Homo sapiens: one gene and its partners. The protein of the gene in region 3 purifies or fractionates together with the protein of the main gene of each other region. This does not show direct contact. Each region holds a gene or a part of one and is shown on either strand. Other genes may lie near its edges.

Evidence for each region.
Region 1: the proteins of SPNS3 (region 3) and BPIFB1 purify together in Homo sapiens (affinity purification with mass spectrometry; one large-scale study listed by BioGRID and IntAct). This does not show direct contact.
Region 2: the proteins of SPNS3 (region 3) and PTPN2 purify together in Homo sapiens (affinity purification with mass spectrometry; one large-scale study listed by BioGRID and IntAct). This does not show direct contact.
Region 4: the proteins of SPNS3 (region 3) and TMX4 purify together in Homo sapiens (affinity purification with mass spectrometry; one large-scale study listed by BioGRID and IntAct). This does not show direct contact.

The regions. Positions count from the first base shown.
Region 1 is NC_000020.11:33,284,217-33,291,778, reverse strand, and holds part of BPIFB1 (BPI fold-containing family B member 1 precursor), read right to left. Parts: intron 5,747-7,562; 5' UTR 5,706-5,746; coding exon 5,591-5,705; intron 3,039-5,590; coding exon 2,897-3,038; intron 1,895-2,896; coding exon 1,787-1,894; intron 823-1,786; coding exon 673-822; intron 1-672. UniProt on the Homo sapiens protein: May play a role in innate immunity in mouth, nose and lungs. Binds bacterial lipopolysaccharide (LPS) and modulates the cellular responses to LPS.
Region 2 is NC_000018.10:12,872,865-12,880,426, forward strand, and holds part of PTPN2 (tyrosine-protein phosphatase non-receptor type 2), read right to left. Parts: intron 1-7,562. UniProt on the Homo sapiens protein: Non-receptor type tyrosine-specific phosphatase that dephosphorylates receptor protein tyrosine kinases including INSR, EGFR, CSF1R, PDGFR.
Region 3 is NC_000017.11:4,446,783-4,454,344, forward strand, and holds part of SPNS3 (protein spinster homolog 3), read left to right. Parts: intron 1-113; coding exon 114-180; intron 181-1,372; coding exon 1,373-1,521; intron 1,522-1,906; exon of another isoform or gene 1,907-2,125; coding exon of another isoform or gene 2,126-2,169; intron 2,170-2,452; coding exon 2,453-2,605; intron 2,606-6,233; coding exon 6,234-6,423; intron 6,424-6,566; coding exon of another isoform or gene 6,567-6,674; exon of another isoform or gene 6,675-7,562. UniProt on the Homo sapiens protein: Sphingolipid transporter.
Region 4 is NC_000020.11:7,980,701-7,988,262, forward strand, and holds part of TMX4 (thioredoxin-related transmembrane protein 4 precursor), read right to left. Parts: intron 6,690-7,562; coding exon 6,588-6,689; intron 3,158-6,587; coding exon 3,094-3,157; intron 1,922-3,093; coding exon 1,551-1,921; 3' UTR 1-1,550.

The DNA of each region.
Region 1 (7,562 bases), on a different chromosome or scaffold from region 3:
AGACGGGGCTGGGAGTAGCCCCTGAGCCAGGTGTAGGCAGTGGCAAAGAGTTATCAGAAAGCAGCGGCTGGGTGTTGTCATTGGAACTTTATGCTGGGCATTGGGATGATGGGAGCTGGCATTTCTCCCTGTCCTCCTGCTAAGAAGGGAAGGGGGGGCGCCATGTTTTTTGGCACCACCATGCGCGTGCACTGTTCTGAGTGCTTGATGGCTGTTGTCTGATCAGTTTTCTCACCACTGCCTGGAAGGTGTCATTACCTGCACTTTACGGGTGAGGAAAGTGAGACACAGGGTGGCCACTTGGCCATCATCACCCGGAGAGCAAATGAAGAGAATGTGTTGGCCTGACCCAAAGCCTATGTTTTTGCCCCTGGCTCCACCTACACCTGCCCTGGTGTTTGGAGGAGTTTCTAGGCCTCCCCCTTCAAAGATTTGCCCCACCTCCCGGTGTCATGCCTGAAACCCACCATGGTTGCTTCTGACCTTGATGTCCTGAACTTCCCTTGGCATCACAGATTCCCTGGAAGGAGCCCCAGATCAGGAATCAGGAGGGGATAAGTCCCTTTCTTTCTCTAGGCCTCAGCGTTCTCCATTTGTAAAATGGGGGAAGTCCACTGCCTGGCGTTCCTTCCAGGCAGGATGGGAGCCCGGCTGGTGGCCAGCGACACTCACTTATGCAGCAGTTGGATGCGCAGGCTCCCATGGCTGGTGGCACAGTCACTGAGGACCAGGCGGGTGGGGCCACTTGCACTGGTGTCCATGCGGATGGTGGCTTGGGCCTCAGTCGTCATGTGGAACTCCACGATGGTCTTGACCAGGGGCCTAGCGGGTGGAGGCACCTGACCATGTGAGCACCAGGCAAGCTCGGGCTGGAGCAACCCTGCCGTCCGTCTCTGTCTTCCAGCCCTCACCTCCTTCCTCAGTCTCCTTTGCTGGTTTCTCCTCATCTTCACCCAACTTCACCCCAGCATGTCCCAGGCTCAGTTTTCAGACTCCTCTTTGGTTGAAACGTCTTTCGTCTGCTGACAGCTTCCAAACTTACCCCCAGCCCCCTACTCCGATGTCTCACGGGCTTCTCAAGTTTAGCGCATGCAACACTGGACTGGCTCTTCCCCAGACCTGCTCCTCTCATGGCCTTGCCTGTCTTGGTTACTGACCACTCCATCCTGCCAGTGGTGCAGGCAGAACTCTTGGAGTCATCGTTGACTTCTCTCTCTTTCCCCCTGAATACACATGCATATTCAGTTCCCCGGGATATCCTGGTGTCCCCACCTACCTCCAAAACATATCCAGAATCCAATCAACTTCTCAGCACCTCCCTGCCCCAAACCCTGGTCTAAGCCATCATTATCTCCTCCTGAATTGTTGCAGTAGCTTTGGGATAGCCTTCCTGTCTCCACTCTTACCCCCAGAAAGTCTTTTTTCCCCACAGCAGCCAGGAGTCTTTAAAAATGTGAAAGCACAGCATATCCCTCCTCTGCTCAGAATCCTCCCTGGCTCCCGTCCTACTCAGCAAAAGCCAAGTCCTTATCTTCTCCCAAGAGGCCTTGTATGATCTGGCCTCGGCTGCCTGCTGGCCTCATCTCCTACCATGCCCCCTCTCTCTTTCCCCTGTCTTTGCCATTCTTTGAGCAAGGCAAGTACACTGCTGCCACAGGGCCTCTGCACTTGCTCTTCTCTCTGCTCGGAACTCTCTTTTCCAGACACCTGCATGGTGGGGGCGGGGGAGGGGGAACGAGCAGATGAGCCTGTCAAGCCTACTGTACTTGATGGAGGGGTCACTCACGTGTTGAATCCAGCCACCATGTCCAGGGGGATCTTGACTAGCAGCTCCTGGTCATTGGCCGAGGGCTTCACCTGCAGCTGGAGGATGTTAGCTGTGATGACCTTCAGCCTGGATGGGGTTTAGGAGAGATCAGAATCATGCCTCCGGCTCATTATTCCCAAATCCACTCCCTCTCTATCTTTTCCATCTCCCTGGGGTGCCTAGGCAGCAGCGGGACCCTGGCCCTGCCCACCGACTCCTCTCCAGATGGTCTTGCCTCCATCCCTCCCCTCCACTCCTGCTCACAATGCTATTATGGTGCCTTCTCTTCTAGGTGGTGACTCCCAGCTCCTTGAGCTGACTCATAAGACCCTCTGTGACCTGACCCTGCTGATCCCTTACTCCTTGCCTTGAGGTTTGAGCTCTAGCCATTCTGACCGACTGTCACTTCTCCATGCCTTTGCCCAGCCTGATTCTTCTACCTGGATGCCATTTGCTTCTTGTCTCCTGGTGAGCATTGAGTCATCGGCTCCACTGTCACCTCCAGTGAGAAGCATCACCTCATCCCTTCCCTGTGCCACCCCAGACAACCTTGCTCTGGGTTGTTTTTTTTTTTTTGTTTTTTTTTTTTTGAGACAGAATCTCACTCTTGTCACCCAGGCTGGAGTGCAATGGCACCATCTCAGCTCACTGCAACTTCCACTTCCCAGGTTCAAGCGATTCTCCTGCCTCAGCCTCCTGAGTAGCTGGGATTACAGGCTTCTGCCACCATGCCTGGCTAATTTTTATATTTTTAGTAGAGATGGGGTTTTGCCATGTTGGCCAGGCTGGTCTCGAACTCCTAACCTCAGGTGATCCACCCACCTTGGCCTCCCAAAGTGCTGGGATTACAGGCTTGAGCCACCGTCCCTGGCCTTGCTCTGGGGTTGTTGTATTAGGGTTCCTGTGTCACTGTCTTATGGTTCTTGTTAACTATTCTGGGAGCTTCTTGACGGAGGGGCTTTGTTTGATCCACTCTTTGTGATCTGACACAAGTCGATGCTTGCAGACTGGTTGACTGAGCATGCAGAGCGTGTCCCGGGCAAAGGTGTGGGAAGGGGCTAGCTCCTGGTGTGGTCCTGCTCCACTCACCAGATGATGTGCTTCAGGACGGTGTTCACCAGGCTGCCCAGCACAGGGATGCCTCCGGCTGGCTTTTCCCGCATGGCACTGAGCAGCGGCAGCTGCTGCAGGATGCTGGTGGCGTTGTGGTCCTTCAGCTCCTGTGTCAGCTCTGGAGGCAGACCCCAGGGATTAGGGCCCAGGAGGAGGGGCAAGAAGGAAGGCTTGGTGGGAGCTCCAGGCTGGGGAGGGGTATCACTCGAGGCTCCCTGAGGTAAGGCGAGGGTGTAGCCATCTCTACTGTGGTGGAGGTCAGGACCAGCCTGCCAGTCCCCACTGTGTAGATGTAGCCTTGAGGACAGTAGCCCAGATGGGTCGTTTTCACATCAGGAGCGAGGCTGGGACCATTCACACCCCTGAGCATTGCCAGCCTCTGTGGGGAGTGTCGGCCACTGCACTCAGCACCTGGACCTGCACTCATCCCCTGAGCCAGTTGCAAGCATTTCTAGGGCCAACAGGCAGGGAACCCTCAAAACTCTGTTTGGGGCTGTTTTGCTGCCAAAGCACACTTGTTAACAATTGTCTGGCATCCATATCCTATGGATGTGTTGTCCAAAAAGCCTCAAGTGCTGAGCAGAGGAAGAAGGAGCCAGGACAGAGGCATAAGTGTCAAGAGCCCTGGGTTCTTGTCCCAGCTGGCTTTTTGTGAGCAGCTAGAGCCCATCTGGCTCATGTGCAGAGCAGGTCAGAAGTGCTGGAGAGCTGATGCCCCAGGAGCAGACTTCAGCCAGTGATTGGTGAGAGTTGGTGTATCAATATCCCAGCTCCCTCACCCCTCAGGCAGGATGGCTCAGATGTGTGTCCCTCATTGTGTATCAGAGCTCCTGGGTTATAGCCTCTCAGCTGCAAATCCACCCACTTTGCCTGCTCTGTGGTAATGGAACTGGGCCCAGTGAATATTTCTTTTTTGCCATTTGGCACAGTGTTAAGCCCTTTCAGTGGAGACTCTGGAGGGGCATGGGGGGGATTCCCTTCATGGCTCTGGTGTGCTTCTCTTTCCAGGTTCCTATGGTGTCACTGCCCAGTGGCTTTTGCTGAGTGAGTTCTGCAGGCACCCTGGCTAGCTTCTAGGCAGTTCCCCAGAGACAGCTTCCCCGTGAGTTAACAGCAGCCCCCTTCCTCCAGGGGCAGCTTCCCAGAGAATTTTATTGGCCCCCTGGCAGGTAGTTCTCCACCCACTAGCGTCAGATTGCCAACTGTGGACCAGCTCTGGCCTGGGACAAGCCAGCAAACTTCTCCACCACACAGTGGGCTTCAACCACACCCTCTACAAAGAGGGCTGGGGAGGATTCTCTACCTCTGAACTTGCTCTGTCCTTGGCTACCCCCTCCATCCCTAGGTTATCCTTTAGAGCTCTGTCTGTTTTCCCTCTTAGCCAATTCCTCATTCTTCCAATCCCCTGGTAATACTTCTTTACATTAAACTTACCTGTTGGCATTTACTGTGTGGTTTCTGTCTCCTGAATGGCCCTAATAGATGCAGTTGCTAGGCAGGACTGAGCTTCAGTCGCCACAGTGGTAACTGGCTTGGACATGCACCCCTCATGGGATGCCTTTCCTTCCCTGCCTTGCCTCCCCACACTCCTGTAGGTGTTTCTGGGGTCACCTTCAAAACCAACCACTTGTACACAACTCCTTATAGGAGAGCCTAAAGCATGGTTGTTCATCTCTAAGCTCCTTCTGGCTGAAATTCCACATGCTTGAGCTTCACAGTGTGGATCCAGGCCACCTCTGCCTCCCTCCAACCTCTCAGAGCCCTCTGCTTCCCGTCCTTACTTGGGAATCCATCCGCTGGCTACAGAGCCTGTTGGTCCCACAGGACCTGCCCCTGCCCCTCTGGCCATGACCCAGGCCCCTAGTCCCCCTGAATGCAGAGGTCTGGTCCTCTAAGTGCTCAAGTGGCCTCCAGAGCTGACAGGTGAGTCCCCTCTAAGGGGATGAGACTTTAGAGTAGTCGTTCTCCACTGAGATGATTTTGTCCCCTAAGAGATATTTGTCAATGTCTGGAGACCTTTTTGGTTGTCACAGTTGGGTTAGGGATGCTGTTAAACATCCTAAAGTGCCCAGGACACCCCCCATAATAAATAGTTGTTTGGTCCACAACATCAGAAGTGCTGAGGTTGAAACCATGGTCATAGCATTCATAAAGCTCTAGTCAATTCCAACCACCCAGTGAGGAAGGCCCTCTTATTTGTGTCCCAAGGTGGAAGCTGAGGCTCAGGGACTGGCCCAGTGCCCCAGAGCTGGAAAGTGATACACTGTGCCTGGGACCCAGGCTGCCACACTTGCAGTCAAGGGTCTCTGCTCTGGGGAGGAGGAGCACACTGGGTCTAACTAAGACGGGGTGCTCTGACGATGGGATTTCAGGTGAAGGCAGTGGGAGAGGCAGCTGCATCACTGCATGCAGTGGCTGCATGCCCCTTCTGCAGGCTGTGGAAACTCAGGGTCTTTGGAACTGTGGAATTTAAGAAGGGGTTCTTGGAATCGTGGACTCTTGAGATCACAGACTCTCCAGACCTTTACAACCTCCCACTCATGTTCACCCACGTTCTGGGATCTCAGCCATGCACATCCCCCGTGATGAGGAACTCTCTCCCTCCTTTGGGAAGCTGCTCCACCTACCCCCTTGTCTTATGGCAGCCAGCTCCGGAGGGACAAAACTTACTTTCTTTGATGACTTTTGGGCCGAGGATGAGAACTGCAGTGGGACTGAGGGTGGCTTGGATCAAGGTGGCTGCCAGCAAACCACAGAGAAGGGTGAAGGTCCACGGGCCGGCCATCTTCCCAGGTGTCAGAGGGCAGCAAGTGCAGGATGCCAGACCTGGGGTGAGCACAGAGGGACCTGAGGCAGAGGGGCCAAGGGCAGGCCCATGATGCCCGGTGACCTGGGGCACGGTGTCCAGGAGAGGCTGTTGAGTGCAGTGTTTAACTGCCTGGGCTAGCTGTGTAGCCTTAGGCAATCAACGTAACCTCTTTGTGCCTCAGTTTTCTTATCAGACAAATGGGGATAATGACCCCAGCTTCCCAGAGTTGAGGGATTAAGTGAGTTAATATCTGGAAAGCATTTAGCACGGTGTCTTTCACATGGTAAGCACTTGGAATGTATTAGCTATTTTCTTTCTTTTTTTTTTTTTTTGAGACAGAGTCTCGCTCTGTCACCCAGGCTGGAGTGCAGTGGTGCCATCTCGGCTCACTGCAAGCTCCACCTCCTGAGTTCACACCATTCTCCTGCCTCAGCCTCCTGAGTAGTTGGGACTACAGACACCCACCACCGCGCCAGGCTAATTTTTTTTTTTGTATTTTTAGTAGAGACGGGGTTTCACCGTGTTAGCCAGGATGGTCTCGATCTCCTGACCTCGTGATCTGCCCACCTCGGCCTCCCAAAGTGCTGGGATTACAGGCGTGAGCCACCGCGCCCAGCCTGTATTAGCTATTTTCTTACAGAAAATCCAGCAACAATGCTCAGAACAAAGAACTTCTGCTTCCCGTGTCTCCCACCCCTCAGTCTGACACTTAAAACCCTCTATGGTTCACCGTCTGCTGACCTCACCTCCTGCTTTCTCTCCCCTTGTTCTAGCAAGTTCCAAGCAGTTGGAAGGTCTCAGAACATACTGTGTTCTCTCCTGTGTCCGTGCCTTTGCTCTTGCTCTTCCTTGCTTCCTGGAATGCTTTTCTCCTCCCATATCTCCCTGATGAACTCCTATTCATCCTTTAAAACCCTGCCAAGATTTGTCACTTTCCCTATAAAGCTTCCCCTGTCCTGCAGACAGGGAACCTGGACCACACTTGGAGAAATGTTGTCCTGGGGCCCAAGACATGAAGGTTGGAGGCAGGAAGGAAATGAGGAGCCAGGTAGGACTCAAAGTTGTGAAAAAGCTCTTTGCTTAATCTGCAATACTAAGGGGGCTGGGGAGGGACTGAATGGCTTCTTGGAGCCAGGAAAAGAAGGGCAGAGAGAGAGAGAGAGAAAGAGAGAGAGAGAAAGGGCCCTGTGGCTCATGCCAGGGAGAGGAGCTTGGGGGTATTCTGGCCCCTTGGCTGCTCTGTCCCCTCCCTCCACAGGGGTGTGGCATCAACATCTGTAGTCCAGTCCTGAGCTCTCCAGCTTGCACCCTGGCTCTGTCTGCCAGCCCCCCATGGAAGCTCCTGCCCCTGTGGACTGTCCTGCTTGGAGGGAGGGGAGACGCTGCAGAGATCTGAGCCCCTCGCTTGGTTCAGCATGTGGATTTCTTTTTGCCAAAGACAAATGTGGCATCCGGATGACATGTGTCTCCTGTGCCCTGGAGCAGTGTGAGCTCTTCTGAGACCCTTGCAATAATGATTCAGCCTCTGCTTCCCTGACCAAGCTGTGAGCTCTGGGAGGGAGGGCTGGGTCTGCCTGCTCCCTGCTGTGTCCCTGGCATCCAGTATAGTGGTTGGCATAGACCAGGTGCTTAATAAATGGCTGCTGAATAATTGCATAGCCTCTGGAAGCCCCGAAAGAATTGGAAATCTGAGCCTGCTAAGCTGAAAAGGTTAGTGTTAGGAGGCCTGAAGGTGGAGGGGAAAATATTATTGGCTTGGCAGCCAGATGAACCCTAGTTGGAGGCCTGCCTCTACCACTTGCTCTGTGATCTTTGACAAGTGACTTACCCTTT
Region 2 (7,562 bases), on a different chromosome or scaffold from region 3:
ATTACATTCATTCTTAAAAGCTATTTCAGATAATGGCACTGCAGGGCAATGCTATTCCAATTAAGAATGTAACAGGCTGGACGCGGTGGCTCACGCCTGTAATCCCAGCAATTTGGGAGGCCAAGGTGGGTGGATCACCTGAGGTCAGGAGTTCAAGACTGGCCCAGCCAACACAGCGAAACCCCATCTCTACTAAAAATACAAAAATTAGCTGGGTGTGGTGGCGCATGCCTGTAGTCCCTGCTACTTGGGAGGCTGAGGCAGGAGAATCACTTGAACCAGGGAGGTGGAGGTTGCAGTGAGCCAAGATCGTGCCACTGCACTCCAGCCTGGTTGACAGAGTAAGACTCCGTCTCAAGAAAAAAAAAAAAAAGCCTCTCCCTCTCCCTCTGCCTCCTCTCCCTCTCCCCACGGTCTCCGTCTCCCCACGGTCTCCCTCTCCCTCTCTTTCCACAGTCTCCCTCTGATGCCGAGCCGAAGCTGGACTGTACTGCTGCCATCTCGGCTCACTGCAACCTCCCTGCCTGATTCTCCTGCCTCAGCCTGCAGAGTGCCTGCGAGTGCAGGTGCGCGCCGCCATGCCTGACTGGTTTTCGTATTTTTTTGGGGGAGACGGGGTTTCGCTGTGTTGGCCGGGCTGGCCTCCAGCTCCTAACCGCGAGTGATCCGCCAGCCTCGGCCTCCGGAGGTGCCGGGATTGCAGACGGTGTCTGGTTCACTCAGTGCTCAATGGTGCCCAGGCTGGAGTGCAGTGGCGTGATCTCGGCTCGCTACAACCTCCACCTCCCAGCCGCCTGCCTTGGCCTCCCAAAGTGCCCAGAGTGCAGCCTCTGCCTGGCCGCCACCCCGTCTAGGAAGTGAGGAGCGTCTCTGCCTGGCCACCCATCGTCTGGGATGTTAGGAGCCCCTCTGCCTGGCTGCCCAGTCTGGAAAGTGATGAGCATCTCTGCCCGGCCGCCATCCCATCTAGGAAGTGAGGAGCGTCTCTGCCCGGCTGCCCATCGTCTGAGATGTGGGGAGTGCCTTTGCCCCGCCGCCCCGTCTGGGATGTGAGGAGCGCCTCTGCCCGGTCGCGACCCCGTCTGGGAGGTGAGGAGCGTCTCTGCCCAGCCGCCCCATCTGAGAAGGGAGGAGACCCTCCACCTGGCAACCGCCCCGTCTGAGAAGTGAGGAGACCCTCCGCCCGGCAGCCGCCCCGTCTGAGAAGTGAGGAGCCCCTCCGCCCGGCAGCCACCCTGTCTGGGAAGTGAGGAGCGTCTCCACCTGGCAGCCGCCCCGTCCAGGAGGGAGGTGGGGGTCAGCCCCCGCCAGGCGAGCCGCCCCATCTGGGAGGGAGGTTGGGGGGTCAGCCCCCCGCCCGGCCAGCCGCCCCGTCCGGGAGGGAGGTGGGGGGTTCAGCCCCCCGCCCGGCCAGCCGCCCCGTCCGGGAGGGAGGTGGGGGGGTCAGCCCCCCGCTTGGCCAGCCGCCCCGTCTGGGAGGTGAGGGGCGCCTCTGCCCGGCCGCCCCTACTGGGAAGTGAGGAGCCCCTTCCGGGAGGGAGGTGGGGGGATCAGCCCCCGCCCGGCCTGCCGCCTCGTCCGGGAGGTGAGGGGCGCCTCTGCCCGGCCGCCCCTACTGGGAAGTGAGGAGCCCCTCTGCCCGGCCAGCCGCCCCGTCCGGGAGGAAGGTGGGGGGGGGTCAGCTCCCCGCCCGGCCAGCCGCCCCGTCCGGGAGGGAGGTGGGGGGTTCAGCCCCCCGCCCGGCCAGCCGCCCCGTCCGGGAGGGAGGTGGGGGGGTCAGCCCCCCGCCCGGCCAGCCGCCCCGTCCGGGAGGGAGGTGGGGGGGTCAACCCCTCGCCCGGCCAGCCGCCCCACCCGGGAGGTGAGGGGCGCCTCTGCCCGGCCGCCCCTACTGGGAAGTGAGGAGCCCCTCTGCCCGGCCACCACCCTGTCTGGGAGGTGTGCCCAACAGCTCATTGAGAACAGGCCATGATGACAATGGTGGTTTTGTGGAATAGAAAGCAGGGAAAGGTGGGGAAAAGATTGAGAAATCGGATGGTTGCCGTGTCTGTGTGGAAAGAAGTAGACATGGGAGACTTTTCATTTTGTTCTGTACTAAGAAAAATTCTTCTGCCTTGGGATCCTGTTGATCTGTGACCTTACCCCCCAACCCTGTGCTCTCTGAAACATGTGCTGTGTCCACTCAGGGTTAAATGGATTAAGGGCAGTGCAAGATGTGCTTTGTTAAACAGATGCTTGAAGGCAGCATGCTCGTTAACAGTCATCACCACTCCCTAATCTCAAGTACCCAGGGACACAAACACTGCGGAAGGCCTCAGGGTCCTCTGCCTAGGAAAACCAGAGACCTTTGTTCACTTGTTTATCTGCTGACCTTCCCTTCACTATTGTCCTATGACCCTGCCAAATCCCTCTCTGTGAGAAACACCCAAGAATGATCAATAAAAATAAAAATTAAAAAAAAAAAAAGCATAGAACAGAAAAGTTTAGTTTTCTTCTACTCAGGAAAGTGAGAGCTTATATTCTTTAAAGTTAGCCTGTGGAAATGTATCTCTTCCTCAGTTATCAGCTGCTATGTCTTAAATTTTACATGCTAAACTGATTGAGGATTTAGTATATGGCTAATCACTCTTATCCAAAGTAAGGGTGGTATTATTAAAAGTTCAGTTTATTAGTTGGTTTAAATATCCTCTGACTCTCAACAGCTTTCCATTAAGAAAAAACTACCTTAATGGGGCATTAAGTTAAGGAATAGAGAGTAGAGAATCTAGATGAGGATTTCCAAGGGAAACAAATCATACGTAACGTTTATTCAAGAAAGTGAAGAGCACACTATGTTAATTTTAATTTCGCGTACCCAGACCTTATCTGTCCATCTCTCTGGTTTATCTGGACTATTTGGAGACCAAAGGGAAGAAGGGGAGTAGAGAGTGGACAGGTAAGAGGACAAAGACAAGGTAGCTAAAAGAACAGCAGGGGACTGAGAGAGCTGTAACAGTTCTCCAACTGGGAATCAGAAATTCTCTGCAGAGTAACTATCTGGAAAAAGTAAAAAGGGCTTTTAAGATTCTGGTTGGCCAAGCACTGTGGCTCCCCAGCATTATGGAAGGGTGAAGCCGGAAGATCGCTTTAGCCCGGGAGTTCGAGACCAGTCTGGACAACATGGTGAGAACCTGTCTCTACAAAACATAAAAAATTAGCCAAGCATGGTGGCGTGCATCTGTGCAGTGAGCCGTGATCTCATCACTGCACTCCAGTCTGGGTGACAGAGTGAGACCCTGTCTCAAAAAACAAAACAAAACAAAATTCTGGTTAAGGGCTGGGCATGGTGGCTCATGCCTGTAATCTCGCCACTTCGGGAAGCCAAGGTGAGCAGACCACTTGAGGCCGGGAGTTCAAGACCAGACCAGCCTGGCCAACAAGAACAACAACAAAAAGAAGAAGAAGAAGAAGAAATTTGTCAGGCGTGGTGGTGTGTGCCTGTAGTCCCAGCTTCTCGGGAGGCTGAGGCAAAGGACCACTTGAGCCAGGAGTTTTGAGTCTGCAGTGACCTACGATCGTGCCACTGCACTCCAGCCTGGGTGACGGAATGAGACCCCTTCTCAAGAAAAAAAGAAGATTCTGGTTAAAATCAAGAAATCAAAAAAGAGGCAACTAGAAAAGCTAGGAGACAAACGCAACTATCTGGATTTCCGTAATTATAGATATCAGTAATCTATAAACACATGTCAAAGGCAAAACAATATGATTTCTAGGTATACATTCCCCATTGGGGCACCCATCCCAAGGCTGCTTTCCCTTCAAGCAGTGGTCTTTACCTTTTGAGGGATCACAGACAAATCCACTAAGAAACTGACAAAAGCTACAGAATCACCTAGAAACGAAATACCTGGGAACACACGTACATAAAATTTAGCAGTTTCAGGAGATTTGCAAATACCTTTCAAGTCTGATCCCTGGATCCCAGACACTGTTTTAAAGGCCTCAAGTCCCAAAATGACCCTACCTATTATAACACATCCACTCCCTCCTAGCCATCAAAATTAAGACGATTCCCTCTGTGCCACTGATCTCAAATAGATCATAAGAAGAAAGCACTACAGGTAGTCACATGGGTAAATTAGGGCAGTGCTGAAACGAGAATCAGAAGGACTGGATTTGAGTCCCAGTTATGACACTAGCAGATATTGTAACATCAGATAAGTCACAACACTGTATTGGCCCAGTGTTTCCTCAGCCATAAATGAGGGGTTTGGAATAAACTAAGGTGCTGACATTTTAAAAGGGAACAGTTTTCCTGTGTTTACTGAATATTTACTGAGCATCTAACATGTTTCAGGTCCCGTAGGTAGGTGGTGGGAAAACAAAGAAAAAAAAAGACCACCCTCAAGGAGCTACACAGAACAGACAAGTAGACAGTTACAAAACAATGTGGTTCATATTCTAATAAAAGAATATAGAGAACTAAGAAATGAGAGAAGGGGGAGCATTTAACTTTGCCCAAGGAGACTACGGTCTAGTCTTGAAGATGTTTCCCAAATAGATATGGTAGGCATGGAGTATATCCAACACATGAAGACTCCAAGGTGTGAGAGAGTAGCCAATCTTCAAGGGAATTCAGAGTTTGTGCAACCATGTAAAAGCACTGAGATTAGACAGCAGGCAGGAGAATGTGTAACTAGTAGGCAAGGGAAGTGTTTTAGAATAAGACAGCTTTGATTCACCTGCCTAACTGGCTGCCCCGCTGTAAGTATGAGAAGAACAGTGTGCACTTGATATCTGACTTCTAAAAATTAGCTGACTCACAAATGGTAAAAATTGTTCTCTAGCAATATTTGAACTACAAATTTCTAATAAAGAAAAATGGCGGCCAGGCGCAGTGGCTCATGCCTATAATCCCAGCACTTTGGGAGGCCGAGGCAGGTGGATCACAAAGTCAGGAGATCAAGACCATCCTGGCTAACACGGTCAAACCCCGTCTCTACTAAAAATACAAAAAATTAGCCTGGCGTGGTGGCGGGCGCCTGTAGTGTTGGCGGGCGCCTGTAGTCCCAGCTACTCAGAAGGCTGAGGCAGGAGAATGGCGTGAACCTGGGAGGCAGAGCTTGCAGCGAGCCGAGATGACGCCACTGCACTCCAGCCTGGGCAACAGAGCAAGACTGTCTCAAAAAAAGAAAAAGAAAAAAGAAAAATGGCCAGGCACAGTGGCTCATGCTTGTAATCCTAAGCCTTTGGAAGGCTGAGGTGGACAGATTGCTTGAACTCAGGAGTTGAAGACCAGCCTGGGCAAAATAGTTAAACCCTGTCTCTACAAAAAATACAAAAAAATTAGCCAGGCCCAGCTACGTGGGGGACTGAGGCAGGAGGATGTCTAAAGCCCAAGAGGTCGAGACTGCAGTGAGCTGAGATCACGCCACTGCACTCCAGACTGGGTGACAAAGTGAGACCCAGTCTCAAAAAGAAAAGAAAGAAAAAGAAAAAAAAAGAAAGAAAAAGGAAAAAAAGAAAGAAAAAGAAAAATGTGGCTGGGCGTGGTGGCTCACACCTGTAATCCCAGCAGCACTTTGGGAGGCCGAGGCAGGTGGATCACCTGAGGTCAGGAGTTCAAGACCAGCCTGACAAACATGGTGAAACCCCGTTTCTACTAAAAATACAAAAATTAGCTGGGCGTGCTGGTGGGCACCTGTAATCCCAGCTACTCGGGAGGCTGAGGCAGTAGAACTGCTTGAACCTGGGGGGAGCAGAGGTTGCAGTGAGCTGAGATCACACTACTGCACTCCAGCCTGGGGGACAGAGCAAGACTTGGTTTCAAAAAAAGAAAAATGAAGTCAGTCAGGAGTTCCATTGTTTATAAACCCTAATTAATCAACCAATTTCCAAGAGGCTGAGGTGAGAGGCTCACCTGAGCCCAGGAGTTTAAGGTTGCAGTGAGCTATGATTGCACCACTGCACTTGTACTCCAGACTGGGCAACAGAGTGAGAACTCTTTAAAAAAGAAAGGAATTTAAAAATAAATAAGCCAAATTCCTTCTGAGCCATCACTTCTTAGAAACAACCCATAACATAGCTTTTGCGATTCCCCAGTTTTAGTCTTTTCCTCAGTAGGCACACAGACTCCATTCCTTCTCTCTGCCTTTCTCAAAGCTCAGCCTGATGAAGACAGCAATCAGCAGTGACAAAAGGAAAAGCCAAAAAGGGATCATGAACATTACTCAAAAAGTCAGAATTAACCTCACACAATCAGACCAAATTAAACTTTTCCAACTGCACCCTTTGTTTTGCTGTTCTTGTTTTAGAGACAGGATCTCACTCTGTCACCTAGTCTGTAGTGCAGTGGCACAATTATGGCTCACTGCAGCCCTAACCTCCTGACCTCAAGTGATCCTCCCACCTCAGCCTCCCAAAGCGCTGGGATTACAGGGATGAGCCACCGCCTGGCCAGCACTCTTTCACGATCAATTCTTCCACCTGTGTGCTCTTGGTCCCATTGACTCTTGCTTTCTAAGATTTCTGGCTCCAACAATCATCCCTTCTATTTCAACCTCCACCTCTCTCTTTAGGTTCATCCCTGCAATCACATAAATATATCAAGTTGCCCTTTCCTCGTAAAAAGTCATTCATTCAGCACATATTTTCAAGTGCTTACTAAGCACCTGATACTGTGCAAAGCACTGGCAGTGCCTTCATGAAACTCTGAAGAAGTAATAAAAAATATAAACTCAGATTAACAGAGTCTGTTCTGCTCCAACCCAATAATTCATTTCTAAGAAACCTCCTATTATCAAACTCATGAAATAAAAGACACTTTTCAAAAGGAGCAAAAAGGAATAAGGGACCAGAGTTCCAGACTCAAAATACTAAATTCATTTTTCCCGCTAGAATTTCAACAAGGTATCAAGTTCTCCTACCACTAAGCAAGTCCAGCTTTTAGTTGTACTCAGTTTTTGCTCAAGAGCAAAGCCTTTCTTTTCCCAGCTCCATGAGCATTACCAAAAAAAGCACAACTCTTCAAAAACATTATCAGAAACATCACCCACTGCTGTGCTAAACAAAGCAGAAAGCCACCTTAAACACTTTTTTCCTACTCAAGCTGTGTTACTTTCAAGATAGTGGTTTGCTTAATGCAAATTGTGTTCCCGAAATCATTTGCTGCTGTATGACATCCAATTCCCGCTATGAAAGGGGAAGTCTTGGGATGCTAAAGAAGTACGCAACAGGGGCTCATACCCAGCATGGGCAGGTCAAGAAGGCCTGCCAAGGAAGTGAGACTTCAGGGATGAGTAGGAGGCAGTTTAAGCAAGAAAGGAAAGAGAAGGGGGGAAAGTTGTGCCAAGGCAAAGAGAACAACATTTACAAACGCCCTAAGGGGAGAATGGACACACACACTTCCAAGAATACAACACAGTGGAAAAGAGGGAGGAAAGTGATAGGGGAAATCAAGCAAGAGACACAGGCCATGAGGTCTTGTGAGCCGGAGGAGGGGCTGAATTTACACTGTGAGCAACGGAAAGCCGTTCAAGGGTTTAAGTGAGAAGTCACACAATCTTGCTTCATTTTAGCTACCT
Region 3 (7,562 bases):
CAGAGAGCCAGCTCCCTGGGGCGTGGGGGGGGCACCCTGGGTCAGGCTGGTGGTGGGGTCTGCCTTCCGCCTCCCTCCCCTCACAGCCCATCGCCCCTGCCCCTTTGTTGCAGTGGTCTGGGCTACGTGCTGGGGTCGGCTGTGACGATGCTGACTGGGAACTGGCGCTGGGCCCTCCGAGTGAGTCCAGCTTCCTTTTCTTCCCTCTGCTTTCCCTCTGGACCGGCAGGGACTTTCCAGCCTTGGGTGACCTTAGCCACTTGGCGTAGCACCCGGCGCCATTAGGGGGACGGGGGGTGGTGGTCAGGCATCGGCAGCTTTGGACATGTGGGGCCTCATAGGGAGCATGGGGTGTGGAAGTGGTGGCCGTGGGCTCAAAAGCTGGCTGCTTAGTTTACCAGCTGTGTGATCTCAAGCAGATCACCTTCTTCTTCAGAGCCTCAGTTTGCCTGTCGGTAAAGCGGGGGTACTAAATGCTACCTAAGGCATCTTGAGGATCAGTGAGATGAGAGATGGAAGTTCCAAGCCGCAGGGTCAGGGTGTAGAGTAGGCCCTTGAGGACTGGCAGCTAGGCTTGCTCAGCAGTTCAGCAGAATGCTCAAGAAGATGCCGGGCAGGCCCCGCTGGGGCTCCAGCCCTTGTGTTTCCAACGTGGGCATGGAGAGGGACCATTCTGAAGAGGAAGGAACTCCATAGTGGAGGGTGCTGAGCTCAGCCCTGGGAGTGCAGCTTGGTGGGAATGCAGGCTGCGCGCAGACCACTGTGGAGCCAGCCCAGTGCCGGGGAGCTGGCGTGTGAAGTGCTGAAGCCAGATTTGGAATTTTGGGGGTGGGGTGGGCTTCAAGGAGGCAGGTCTGACCTGGCTTGAATAAACCTTCTCATGGTCTCAGCTGTTTGAAGGCTGCCCCAAGGTGGGTAGTGAGATCCCCGTCCTTGGGGTTTGAGCAGAGGGGCCGCTAGGAGAGGATGCCAGGGCAGGACTGTGTGGCAGATGGAGGCCTGGGCCAGGGAAAGATCAGCTCTAGGACAGCAAGTACTCAGGAGGCAGGGCCAGTGTAGCGAGGGTCCCTGTTCTCAACCGTCTCAGGCCCACTGACCTCAAAAGACTGGTGTCTGTACTGGAAAGACGGGAATTACATGAAGTCCCAAAGAGTCTCCACTCCCTGGAAAGGCTGCAGTGGTGAGGGCTGAGAAACAGTGGTACATCCTGCTCTGTGGATACCAGCATCCAGGAATCAGGTCACCCCCACTACCCCCAGGGCTTGGAAACCAGAGGTCAGCCACTGGCTGATACTGTGGCCAGTTGCCCCCGGGGGTCCCTTGGGCTGTGATAATATGCGGCCCTGAGCTTCCTGGGCCCTCCTGTCCCCAGGTCATGCCCTGCCTGGAGGCCGTGGCCTTGATCCTGCTTATCCTGCTGGTTCCAGACCCACCCCGGGGAGCTGCCGAGACACAGGGGGAGGGGGCCGTGGGAGGCTTCAGGAGCAGCTGGTGTGAGGACGTCAGATACCTGGGGAAAAAGTGAGTATCCCTGCTACCCCCTGCAAGGCACAGAAAAGCCCGTTTGTCTGCCCCAGCATCATTGACCCCCTCTCTCCACCTCCAGGGAGCCCTCCCTGGTTGTCCCAGTGTTCACAGCCCTCCTCTTCCTCTGAGATCGCACTTACCAACTGAAGTGCCTCTCCCTCCCTTAGGGCTCAGCCTCCATCACCTTGCCATGTGACAGAAATATGGACAGAGTGGGAGGGAGATGGCGTGAGCCCCAGCCTTCCCTCTGCCCTGCCCATAAGTGGCTCCAGCACTCAGAGCCTCAACGTCCTTTGTATTCAATGGATGGAATTCTCCAGCCTTGCCCCCTTCTCCGGGTTGCTGGGAGGATGCTGGGAATTCATCACTCACCTCTCCAAGCCTCATGGCGTGCATGATCCTCTGTGCCAGCCATGCTGGGGGAGGCAGGCAGGAGTCAATTGCTGGTCCCAGGCCTCATGATTCACTGCAAGGCAGGGCATGGACAGGATTCAATTCTGTTACTGAGCTGTGAAACTGGTCGGGAGGACTCAGAGGAAGACAGGGCAGGCAGGGACAGCTTCCTGGAGAATGTGATGCTGGATGGGGGCCTCCCAGGATGGGGAGATTTGGTCCTGCAGAGAGGAGGGAGGAGGAGGCAAGGTGTGTGAGTTGGGGGGGTCTCAGAAATGTTGGGGAGGCTGGAGCTCAGGGTGCTGCCAGGAAGGATCTGGAGGCTGGAGCTTGGGGTAACCTGAGTGTCTTCTTCTTCGGAGCCTCAGTTTGCCTATCTGTAAAGAGGGGGTAGCAAATGCTACCTATGGAATCTTGAAGGTAATGAGACAAGATGGGAAAGTTCCTAGACTGCCCAGGAGTGGGGAGGAGTGGACAGGCCCCTTCAGCCCCAGCCCTCTCCCAACTCCAGCTGGGGCACCTCGTCTTGCAGCTGGAGTTTCGTGTGGTCGACCCTCGGAGTGACCGCCATGGCCTTTGTGACTGGAGCCCTGGGGTTCTGGGCCCCCAAGTTTCTGCTCGAGGCACGCGTGGTTCACGGGCTGCAGCCTCCCTGCTTCCAGGAGCCGTGCAGCAACCCCGACAGGTGAGGGCATCCGGGGGCCCTGGGCACCTGGCCCGGCTCGGGGGCTCTTGCTGAGGAAGTTCTGAGGTTCTGAGCTCCAAAATTCAGTTTCTTGGGGTGGGGCATTTGGTGCTGTGTGAAGACAGTGGAGCTCAGGACCCAGATGGCAGCAGGAGGCCTGGCTCTGGCTCTGGCTGAGCCTCTGCCACTCTGGGTGGCCATGGCCAACTCTCTTGTCCTCTCTGGGCTGAATTCCCCATATCTCCACTCTTGGGGCTGCTGTGGGCTCCAGAAGGCACTGGTTGGAAATGGGGGTGAGGCTTCTGTGGGGCTGTGGGATGAGAGGAGCCTTAGGCAGCCACCCTTTAGAGGGGCCTGTAGCGTCTTCTGTGAGGGCATCCCATTTTACAGATGGCAAACTGGGGCCTGGGAGGCCTTGTTACTTCGCTGGTTTTGGGATTTCACGTGTGTGGGAAGGCTGCCGGGAGGGGAGGCGCGGGCACTCTGCCCTCAGGGCACGCCCTCTCCCGCTTCCTGCCTGGCTGTCTGCTGCCCGGCTGGGCTCCACTTCTGTTCCTATCGCCTTTGACCCTGTTCTCCAAGAGCTCCAGTGACCACTTGATGCTGAGTCAAGGACATCCTTCAATCCTCCCTTCCTTCTCTCCTCCTCCTCCTGGAACCCTTCACCCCGGCCTCCTCCCTGCCTCCAGGGGCTGCTCTCCAGCCTCCTTGCAGTCCCCTCCTCCTCTCTGACCCTGTCCTGGTGGGTCCTGGGGGCTCCTGGGGATGCTATCTTCTTCCCTGGAGCTCCATCCTCCCCCAGGGTTTTGGCGACACTCGTCCTCTGCTGACTGCACCCACGCCTACCTTCTCCTTCCCTCCTCCTCCTCCTTCCTCCTCTTTTCTCTCTTCTCCTCTCTTCTCTTCTCTCCTTCCTTCTCTCTTTCTTTCTTTCTCCCTCCCTCCCTCTCCCTCTCCCTCTCCCCTCCTCTCTCTCTCTCTCCCTACCCCTCCCTCCCTCCTTCCCTCCCTCCCTTCCTTACTTCTCTTCTTTTCTTTCTTTTTTGAGTCAAGGTCTCACTCTGTCACCAGGCTGGAGTGCAGTGGTACAAACACAGTTCGCTGCAGCCTCGACCTCCCAGGCTTAAGCAATCCTCCCACCTCAGCCTCCCAAGTAGCTGGGACCACAGGCACACGCCACCATGCCTGGCTATTTTTATTTTATTTTATTTTATTTATTTTTTTTTGAGACAGAGTTTCACTCTCGTTGCCCAGGCTGGAGTGCAGTGGCACAATCTTGGCTGACTGCAGTTTCCACCTCCCAGGTTCAAGTGATTCTCCTACCTCAGCCTCCCGAGTAGCTAAGATTACAGGCATGTGCTACCATGCCCAGCTATTTTTTTTTTTTTTTTTGTATTTTTAGTAGAGATGGGGTTTCACCATGTTGGGCAGGCTGGTCTCGGACTCCTGACCTCGAATGACTGGCCCGCCTCAGCCTCCCGAAGTGCTGGAATTACAGGCGTGAGCCACCGTGCCCGGCCGAACTTACAGATCCTTAAGGGCTCTCTTGGCTGTAAGAGTCTGTGATGCTGGGAGGGCCCTGTGTGGATGGAGGGAACATGAAGGGCTTGGTAGCTGGGGCATGTCCTCTGGCTGCCCCTCCTGCTTAGGGGCTGGCGGGGGTGCATTTTCAGGCAGCCTGTCTAAATAATCAATCCTAAGTCTCATGAATATCTCGAGAACCTGCCAAGGTCAGCCCAGACCAGGACTCAGAGGCAGCTAGCATACATCCGGGATTTGGGTCATTTGACTGGGCTGAGCCAGACCTCGCACAGCTTGGAAGCCTGGGAAGGTTTAGAAAGCACTTCTTCTTCTTCTTCTTTGTTTTTTTTTTTTTTCCATTTGAGACAGAGTCTTGCTGTGTTGCTAGGCTGGAGTGCAGTAGCACGATCTCGGCTCACTGCAACCTCGGCCTCCCGGGTTCAAGCGATTCTCCTGCCTCAGCCTCCCAAGTAGCTGGGACTACAGGCGCACACCACCACGCCCAGCTAATTTTTGTACTTTTGGTAGAGAATTTAGAGAATTCTCAGTCATTTGTGCAAAGTGAGGGTGGGAGAAGAGAGGGCAAGCTACATCGGTCAGCGTGGACCAGTCCCGCAGAGTCATCAGTGCTGGTCAGGAGCTTGCTCAGAGGACGACAGGGAGCTATTGAGAGGTTGGAAAGATCCTGGTTGGACTGGTGTTTTCAAGAGTTCACAGTGGGCACAGTCTCAGCGTTCCCTTTGAGCTCCTTTATTTGTTTTGTTTTGTTTTGTTTTTGAGACGGAGTCTTGCTCTCTTGCCCAGGCTGGAGTGCAGTGGTGTGATCTCAGCTCACTGCAACCTCCACCTCCCGGATTCAAGTGATTCTCCTGCCTCAACCTCCTGAGTGGGCTGGGATTACAGGTGCCCACCACTGTTCCCAGCTAATTTTTGTATTTTTTTTTTTTTTTAGTAGAGACGGGGTTTTGCTGTATCGGCCAGGCTGGTCTTGAATTCCTGACCTCAAGTGATCCACCCACCTCGGCCTCCCAAAGTGCTGGGATTACAAGCTTAAGCCACCTTGCCTGGTCCCCTTTGAGCTCCTTTAAAAGGGGGCTGGAGGTTGCACAATGGACCAGGAGGGTGAAGAAGTATATTCAAATCCTGGTCTGTAATTTACCAGCTGGGTAATCTTGGCCTTGACTTTTCTCAGCCTCACCTTGCTCACCTATCCATCTGGGAATTGTTGCCCAAGCTGGAGTGCAGTGGTATGATCATAGCTCACTGTGGCCTCGAACTTCTGAGCTCAAGCGATCCTCCCGCCTCAGCCTCCTGAGTAGCTGGGACTACAGGTGCACGCCACCAAGGCTGGATGATTTAAAAATTTTTTGTAGAGACAAAATCTTTCTGATCTGGAACTCCTCCCACCACAGATCTCCTGCCACAAAATGCACTCCTGGGGAGCCTTTGTGGAGGTTATTTTGGAGGGACAGGTCTCCACAGGAAGGATGTACAAGGGGAAGCCAAGCAGAGTAGAAGTGGCTCTAAAAGTGGGTGGGAAAGGGACGGAAGTCAGGTAGGGGCTGCCTGAGAGGGGTTCAAAGACGGGGAGTGGAAGGATGGGATTCAAGGAGGGAGGGCGTGTAGAGAGCCCAGACAAGGGCCAGGTGTATCACAGGGGCTCAGTAAATACATGTTTGCTTCCCTCCATTCCTCTTAGTACTGGGAGCTGGAAAGAGAGAAGGTTGGGGCCAGGGTGGGACCCTGGAATTCAGATTTTGAGTGGGGCAGTTTTGGGGGGTGAAAGGGTAAGGGTCAATGGAGATGAGGCAGGCTGGGACCTGGGGTGCAGGGTGATCACCCACATGGCCAGTGGGATCCCCAGGATGAGACAGGAGATGAGGCAGGAAAGGGGGTAGGGGAGAGCAGTGGGACATTGGTCCCTGGGAGTATCAGTGAGGAGGGTGGGTAAGGTTCTGGGTCAGGTCAGGGGCCCACAGCCATATTCCCTGTAGACACCAGATCATGCACTTGAGCCGAGGGGCTAGACCTGGGGCTGGGAGCAGGATAAGAGTCCCTATGCTAAGCTCACCCAGCTGACCAACCCTTCTGTGCTCTTCCCCATCAGCCTGATTTTTGGGGCACTGACCATCATGACCGGCGTCATTGGGGTCATCTTGGGGGCAGAAGCTGCGAGGAGGTACAAGAAAGTCATTCCAGGAGCTGAGCCCCTCATCTGCGCCTCCAGCCTGCTTGCCACAGCCCCCTGCCTCTACCTGGCTCTCGTCCTGGCCCCGACCACCCTGCTGGCCTCCTATGTAAGTGAGAGCCTCTATGGAGGTGGGGACAGGGTTGGGGGGCGAGGAACTCCTGTTTCCACAGGCTCATGCTGCGCCCGGCCTTTATGTACAATTATGTTGATCACTCCTTCTGAGTAGAGCTTGTTATCCCCATTTTACAGATCAGTAAAGAGAAGCTTGGCTGGACGCGGTGGCTCATGTCTGTAATCCTAGCACTTTGGGAGGTCAAGGCCGGCCTGGCCAATATGGTGAAACCCTGTCTCTACTAAAAATACAAAAAATTAGCTGGGCATGGTGGCAGGCACCTATAATCCCAGCTGCTTGGGAGGCTGAGGCAGGAGAATCGCTTGAACGCGGGAGGTGGAGGTTGCAGTGAGCTGAGATTGCGCCACTGCACTCCAGCCTGGGCAATGGAGCAAGACTCCATCTTGGGGGAAAAAAACAGAGAGAGAAGCTTACCAGGAGTTCCACAGTGAAGAAGGGGCAGAACTGGGATTTGAGCCTGAGCTTTTCTGACTGTAAAAGGTGTCCTCTGAGCATTGGGTTAATGTGTTAATTTGAGAAAATAGGACTCATTTATTGCCAGGGCATATTGTGGGCCCAAGAAGAAATAGAGCAATTCTCCCCAGGTTACAGAGGAGGGAAGCAAGGCCCAGATTGGTTATGGCCAATGTGGACGCTGCTTTAAGGGCAATAATCATGGTAATATCAAGTGTTCCAAATCCACATCCCATCACACCCCTTCATGGGCCTCACACTCTGGCTGTGCCAGCCGTGTGGGCACACACACTTCCCAGACTTTGCACGCGTCCATTTCTTCCACCAAGAACACCAGTTCCTCTTTTGTGCATCCTGAAATCCTCCTTCTGCAAGACTCAACTCAAAGTCCGCTTCCTCCAAAAGCCTTCCCCTACCACTCTATCCTCACACCAGAATTCACGTTCCCACTTGGGCTCAGCACCTGTTTGGGTCCCATGAGGCACCAAGGTTTATGGGGCCTGTCCACAGACAGGGAGCCCAAAGGGCAGGACCAGAGCCAGAGGGTCCCTGTGTGCAGCCGTGTCCCTGGCTCCCCAAAGCCCCAGCCCTGCCTGTCCCCCAACATGGGAAAGGGCTACTGCTTCTGGGAAGATGACGCCAGCCCAGCCACAAGCAGA
Region 4 (7,562 bases), on a different chromosome or scaffold from region 3:
GAACCATCTCTAAAAGTTGATGCTGTCAGAAGAATAACCTCCTTTGTGCAAGTCTTGCAACATCTTCATTCAACCACAGGAGGGCAGAGAGTTTCAGAACCTCCCCCACCAGTGAGCTCCGTGCTCACAATTAATACAAGGAAAGGGTTATCTAAACAGCCAGATAGAAATATACTGCACGTTCCTTTTTAAAGACGACAGAAACTTTTAGAATTTCATAAACCTGTACTCATTATTCTGTCTGGATCTAAGGAGCATAGAATCAACTTTAGGCATCTTTCGTATGCTTGGAATCGAATTTCATGAATTTATTCTAACACATAAATCAGGTAAGAGAGAAGTAGATGGATAGATTTTTTTTTTTTAAGGAAATTAGCCTCCCTGGGTACTTACAGTAGATTGAGTATTGAGAGATTTACAAAGATATAATTCTTTGGAAGATTACAGAAGATGGAAACAAAATCAAATCTTTCACTTTCAGGTACTGGAGTTCATTAATTCTTTCACCAAAAGCACATCACTGAAGGAAAATCAGAAGTGGTTTTTTAGTTATTATTAAAGTAGTTCAAGACCCAGGGAACCCCTTGAGATGAAAACAAAACAGTATTCAACTTTTCTTCACAAGACTACCTTGTACTGGCAAGACTTAGAGGACTTCTGGCTTGAAAAATATTGCTTAGAAAACTTAAAAAAAAATCAACAACAACTATATTTTGGACAAAACAATTTTTTTTTAATCTGTCTTGTAAAATCCTTACTTCCTTTTGAGTCTCTGATGGCCACAACATTTCATTTGAGATGTTTGGCAGTCACAGCTTCAGGGGTTATGGTTACTGATTATCTAAACCCCTTAGGTCAGAATGAACAAACACAGTTCATGTAAACCTGGCTGTTATTGGAGTCCTCTGACCAAGAGATAATAGTGAAGAGTGTGGAGAGCCTGAATGCCCATGGTGGAAATGCTGGAAAAATTAAAGGTAAGAAATAAAACATAGCACAGGAGATTCAGAGGGCTGGGATGACTTCTGAGCTGCTCTCTATACCCAAGGCCCTTTCAATTTCTAGCTGTGAAAGATTTTTCATGCACTGTGGTGCCTGATGTTTCCTGCAATTTGACAAAAATAAATACTTTACACAAGAAAAGGATGCAAGGCTTCTACGTTACACTTTGGGGATGCTCAGGAGCCAAGGCTCCTGCTTGGCTTTCATTTCACAGGGCCTGCAGCCTTGTCTCTGGAAGGTGCTGATTAGGACTGGGAATGGCCTCCTCTGGTCGAGACTCTCTGACCCCTAAGTAAATGAACTTGTTCCCATCCCAGTCTCCAAACAGATCCCAACACTACGTTTGTTTTTCTATATCCTGATTGTCACACCTGGAAGACTCTCCTTAGTATACATGAGGCTTACTGCCATGAGACCAAATGACTAGAGAGCATCTTTTAAGAGAAGCTTGCTCATTCAGGAAAAATTAAGGATTTGGTACAAACTGCAGGCCAAAGGGAAGCTGACATATTGTTTTGGTGTGTATTCTTGAAAACGCATCATTAAATCTACAGTCCCTTGTCAGCATGCTGACTTTTACGCTGCCTCAAGGAGTCTTCCACCACCTCTGTGTCAGCTGGGCAGGGTTGCTCAGAGATGCCTTCTTCAGCCTCCTCAGGCTCTACTTCCTCCCGGGTCACACCGTCCTCTCCTGGGGGCCCCTGATCATTGGCCTCACTTCTCTCCTCATCCACACCAGCAGCCAAGTTGTCCTCCTCCTCTTCTTCCTCTGCTTCATCCTCATCGCCAAGATCTTCTTTCTCTTCTTCATCATCTACAAGGCTGTCTTTGTTTTCTTCTTCATTTGAATCATCTTTTTCCTCCTCCGCATCCTGCAACTGTTCAGCTCTATGAGCCTCCTCTGATCTCCGATTCTGCTCTATGGAGGGAAGAAAGAGGAATATCCTCTGAATAAACAATGGTAATTCGGTAATCAATTGAGTGTGTTTAGCTGTGAAATAAAAATAGAGGGTAAGTGACAGTTTTTTCTATCTTGAAACTATGGTCATATAGGACAGATTCTCTGGTTGGCATCCTAGCCCCATTTAGGGCTTCTCCACCTGTCTCTGGAGATTTCATGGACCATAATGACTTCAGCAGGGCATGTGGGCAGCAAGGGCAAAGGGTCCTTTACGCTCGGTATTTTGTGTCTTGTAGAAAGCTCAGTGACCCTATTGGTCATGGTGATTGGTTCAGAAATGTGACATGCTAAGCCACTCAAAGTACTCCACAGAGGTTCTGGGCCAGAGTCAGGAGAAACAGCCTCTTTTTCTTCAGGGATTTTTAAACAGAGAAAATGCGCAAGGACTATCAACAGCTCTTATGAATAAGCCACACAGACAGAGAAACCTAACATCACTTGGGCCGTGCTTGAAGCTAGAATGTCCCTGGGCTTTTCAGTTATGTGAGCTAATAAATTTTCATTTGTTTTCCTAAAATCCTTGATATTGGGTTTCTATTACTTTTAAGAAATCTAAGAATCATATTTTCAAATTATCAATGGAAGTCTCAAAGCCTCAAAAACTTCAAGAACTAAAAAGAAACATGAGCTTATTTAAACTCCCACATAAAATTCAACAATTAGAAAGTCTCATGAACATCTTTATGCAGTCTCAAAAATAGTCTGGAATAAAGACATGCAAATCCAGAGGCACCTGGCCCCAGAAGAAGTGTGGAGCAGTGCAAGGATTTGGGAAGACTGCTTTTAAAGGACTTAGAAGAGTTACTAGCACACAGCAGAAGCAATATATATTGAGTTTCCCTTCTTCCCTTCTAGTTCTAGTTAGAATAAAGGAAAATATGACACTGATTAATGAAGAGCACATACTTAAAAAGAAAAAGCAATTGCCAAAATGAAATATTTCCTAATTTAAGAAAGGGAGAAAAATAATTTTGTTCAAATCTACCTAGAAAACACATTTTAAGAAATTTGGTAGTGATTATTTGGTCACCTAGTAAATCACAGAGAAAACCCACTATCTATATGAGCACAAAAAGGCACATCACAGAATTCCAAAAACACTCTAGATCACAGGAGCTTATCGTACTTACCAGAACGCTCAGATAAATGCCTTGGAAGTGGCACATAGAAACATTCTGATATTACCACCAAGACCTGGAAGGAAAAAAGTGATTTTACAGTGAATAGATAGGACATTTATTACCAAAGGACCTCAAAATTAGGCCTTGCTTCTATAATCAGATATTCTTAGACTAATAATTAGCAGCTAGTCAAAAGTCTTCACAAGAGACAAGGATATAATTAAGAATTTCCTACTTTTCAAATGTGACATAATACAGGAAAATATTAATTTAGAAAGTGGTCACAAAGCCAAAAGTCTACAGAGAACCCACTATAAATAGATGAACCAAGCAGGTATAAGAAGATAGACACTATGAACCAAGTCTTTTTAAATACACTATTCTGGACAACCAAACCACTCTGTATATAGGCTGCCCCTCACCAACGGGTAACCCCTGATTGAATGGAAGAACATTTCACAAATGTTACAGCCAGCTGTGGGTGGGGAAGGATTGAGGATGACTTTGAAGGAGGAGGCATTTAATGCCCTGGGCAGTCAGGAGAGAACAGCAGCACCGCCTGGCTGCTCTAAGCTAAACTAAGTTGGATCTCCATGGGGGTCTTGGATCCAGAGAAAGCCCTGAATGTCAAACTGAGGAGACCCAGGAGGTGGGGCAATGAGTTGCAGGAAGGCTTGGTGGGTTGGAGAACAATAAGCTCTAAGCCATTAAATCAATTTGAACAACAAAGAGAAAAAAAAACATTCCATCTGAAATGATTCAGGTTTGAAAACCTTACCTTTTAATGTGATAGTTATATGCTTACTGGCTATTCTAGGACATAATGTTTCTTTCTGACTTTTCTTTTTTATTTATAATTGACACACAGTAACTATATATACTGATGGGGTACAATGTGATGTTTCAATGCATGTATTACAGTATAATGATCAAATCAGTGTAATTACCATATCCATCATCTTAATTTATCCTACTCTTCTATTCTGGAAAATTGTACACTCAACAATTTTATCTCAGGTTTAGTCTATCTAATTTACTCATTTAATTTTGACTCAGTTGGTGAGATTACAAAAAAAAAAAATTTGGATCCTAGCTTCCCAACAGACATGTCATCCTTCAAGGAGTCTGGGCCATTCAGAGCCAGCCTCAGGCAGCTTTGTCCCCCAGTATTCCTTTACCCTGGCATGCTACGTAAATATTCTCTATGTGGCTAAGACATGAAAACAATTGACAAACACTTTTCTATCATCCTAGAAGTTAACAAAAATGTCATTCTGGAATAGGTGATTTAAATTGGGATAAGAATGCAGCTGTTTCAAATTGTGTAACTCTCACAAAACAGAAGTTGAAAGTACATAAGAAATTAAAGGTTACTAAAAGCAAAAATTCTAGCAGTTGTGTGTTTACTTTAATATACTTAACAGTTATAGAAAAGGCATTCTGTGTGTGTGTGTATATATATGTGTGTGTGTGTATATATATATATATATATATTTTTTTTTTTTTTGAGACAGGGTCTAGCTCTGTCACCCAGGCTGGAGTACAGTGGCAAGATTATGGCTCACAGCAGCCTCGAACTCCTGGGCTCAAGTGATCCTCCCACCTCAGCCTCCCGAGTAGCTGGGACTACAGGTGTGTGCCACCATGCCAGGCTAATTTTTGTATTTTTGTAGAGACAGGGTTTTACCATGTTGCCAAGGCTGGTCTCAAACTCCTGGGCTCAAATGATCCACCTGCCTCAGCCTCCCAGAGTGCCAGGATTACAGGCCTGAGCCACTGTGCCCAGCCTAAAACAGGTACTTTGAACACAGATATGTGTTTGTTATTTTTTGGAAACTTATTAACAGTAAATGTATGAATCTTTTATAATTTATGATTCATATGCTTTGAAATTATTATTTCGTTAATAAAGTTAATAATATTTTGTTAAATAAAGTTATTTTCTTATTAAGGAAGGGTAGTCTATCTCACTTAATCACTTGAACAGGCTAGAATCACTCTCTCCTTTCTTCAGGCCAAGCCTCCAATAACCTTTCTACACTGATTATCTGAATCTAGGTTTCCAAAGGAATCTAAGGCATAGGCAGGCAGGCCTGACTCAATTTCATGGACTTAAAGTCAACATCAAAAATAATATTCTAAAACTCTAAGCATTTTCACTAGTCTTCCAACAGGGTCACACACAACCTACATTCCCTATAACTCCATCATTGACTCGCCTGGGACCTCATACTGTTTCCCCCTACAAGAACCTCACACTATGGTAGCCCCAAAATACACTGCTAGAAAAATCTCGCACCAGACAACAGATGGGAGAAGCACAGACAATCACATTCTATTTATATCCGGTGTCAAATCCCTTTAGACGGGAGCAATGGGGACATGTTAATTAGCAAAAAGATTAATGCAACAGAACAGAACATACCCAGGACCTAATGAAGGACATATACAGATATCTAAGTAAGTCCCATTCTTATCCCTGAAGTTAACATCAGGAGCCAAGTTTCAAAGATAAGCCATGATATGTATTAAGCATGTTCATAGAAAAGTCAAATCGAGCCTCCTTGGCCTCTTGGGGTTGTGACTTACTATAAGTCAATTGTTAACATTTTTAAAAAGAACTTGCTAAAGAGCCAAAATTCATTATAAAATATAAGGACAGACTTTAAGATAATCTTACCTTAAAGTCTGTTCTTTGACATAAATTTTTAGTAATCATCAATTATTCCCATTATAGTGTTTAGGAACTATGTGTTTAGTATACAATATAAAGGTTTTTAAAAACTTTTTGGTTTAATTAGGGTTTAAAATGCAATCAAACTAATCAAGATTAGGTTAAGAGAAATAAAAAATAACAAGAAGTACAACATGCTGAACATTTATAGTTGCCTATGTAGTTAGATAAATAAATTTATTATTCAACTCTTGCCTGAAATACCTGGGGAGAAAATACCTGGGGAGATATATACTGCATACTGATTTTCATGCCCAAAGAATAATTGTGTTGTGTTAACTACATTATCTATCTCAGGAAAACCAGAGTGTATGCATAAGCGGCTAGTCAGGATTAGTTTAACTGGAGGATAAGAACAACAACAACAACAATCTTGCATCTACACAAGGAACAAATTCAAAACCTTGGCCTTATCACTACAGTGTTTCTAATTAAGCAGGCAATGTGTGAAATCACAGCTGACTCAGTTGTCTTAGAAACTATCAATTCTAGTAAGGTCTCTTTTTTTTTTTTTTTTTAATTACTGTCTATAGGCAGTACACATCTTCAAAATACTTAAGGGATAGGATTAGGGGATAAGAATTTAATAAATTTTCTGTTATATCTCACATTACCATTGAAAGCAGTCTCAAACAAGCAAATGCTATTTAACTACTTAGATTGCACAAAATACTATTTTTTATGTGCTTTTTCTTTCTTGGCTGCCTTTTATTTGTACATGAAATTCATTTTGCCTTAAAGATAGAAAAAGTTTGGTATTATCTCTTACCAGACCCATAAAAAGGCCAAAAACCAAGGTGGCTATGACGAAAAAGACATAAGAACACCAAGCAGGAATTCCAAGAGTCACTGTGAAATAGTTGTGAAGATGCTGGAATCAGAAGAAAAAAAATAAAACATTAATTTTTAAGAGAACCAAAAATATTTCAATCTCTCTCTCTAGCTGTTGTTTCTACATACATAGGTTCCCACAAAGCTTTATGTATCTAAATGATTCTTAAAGAACAAGTCAATTTTATAATATTGGGAAACTGAGAGTAGTAATTAAGGTCATTACTAAAAAAAAAGTTATACTTGCTTAGAGTTCATAATCTGGATAGAATTCTGGTAGAATCGTTTTGATAGTCCTTTCTTCCATCATGATGGATGCTTTTGGCCCTCCTCCCCTAATAATTATATACATCTCAATGTTTACTTATAATAGGGCATTCATGAAAAAATTAAACTTTTTGGGCCTCTGACTTTTTAGTAAAACTAAATTACGACTTACAGAACGTCAATCATTTAAAATGTCTCCATACCTCTTTTTCCTAATTAGACTCTCATTGCTCTACACCTATTCATCCTTTCAAAGTTTGGTAAATTACCAGAAAACATAAAATGTAACAGTAGACAGAAGAAAGTTTTTCTGATTAATTTATTATGAGCAAATGAGATTCCAGCAGTCTTTGAATAGAGTGTATATCCCTTCATGCTTACTGTTCCCTAAGACTCTATTTGATGACAAACACTCTAAAAATGAGTGAAGGGACATAATCACAGCTAGAAAGTATTTACATGCTAAATCATAAAGAAATTAACAGATATGAACTTGCTATTTCAAAGTCAAAACCTACTTAGATGTAGAGTTGCAGGAGCCATGCTTCCTCACAATCACTTAGTCATTTGTTCAAGACCCTGACAGCTTCAAAAATGGCCATTAAAATTCAAGTAACTACTGGACACAGGATGATATGGCTCCAAA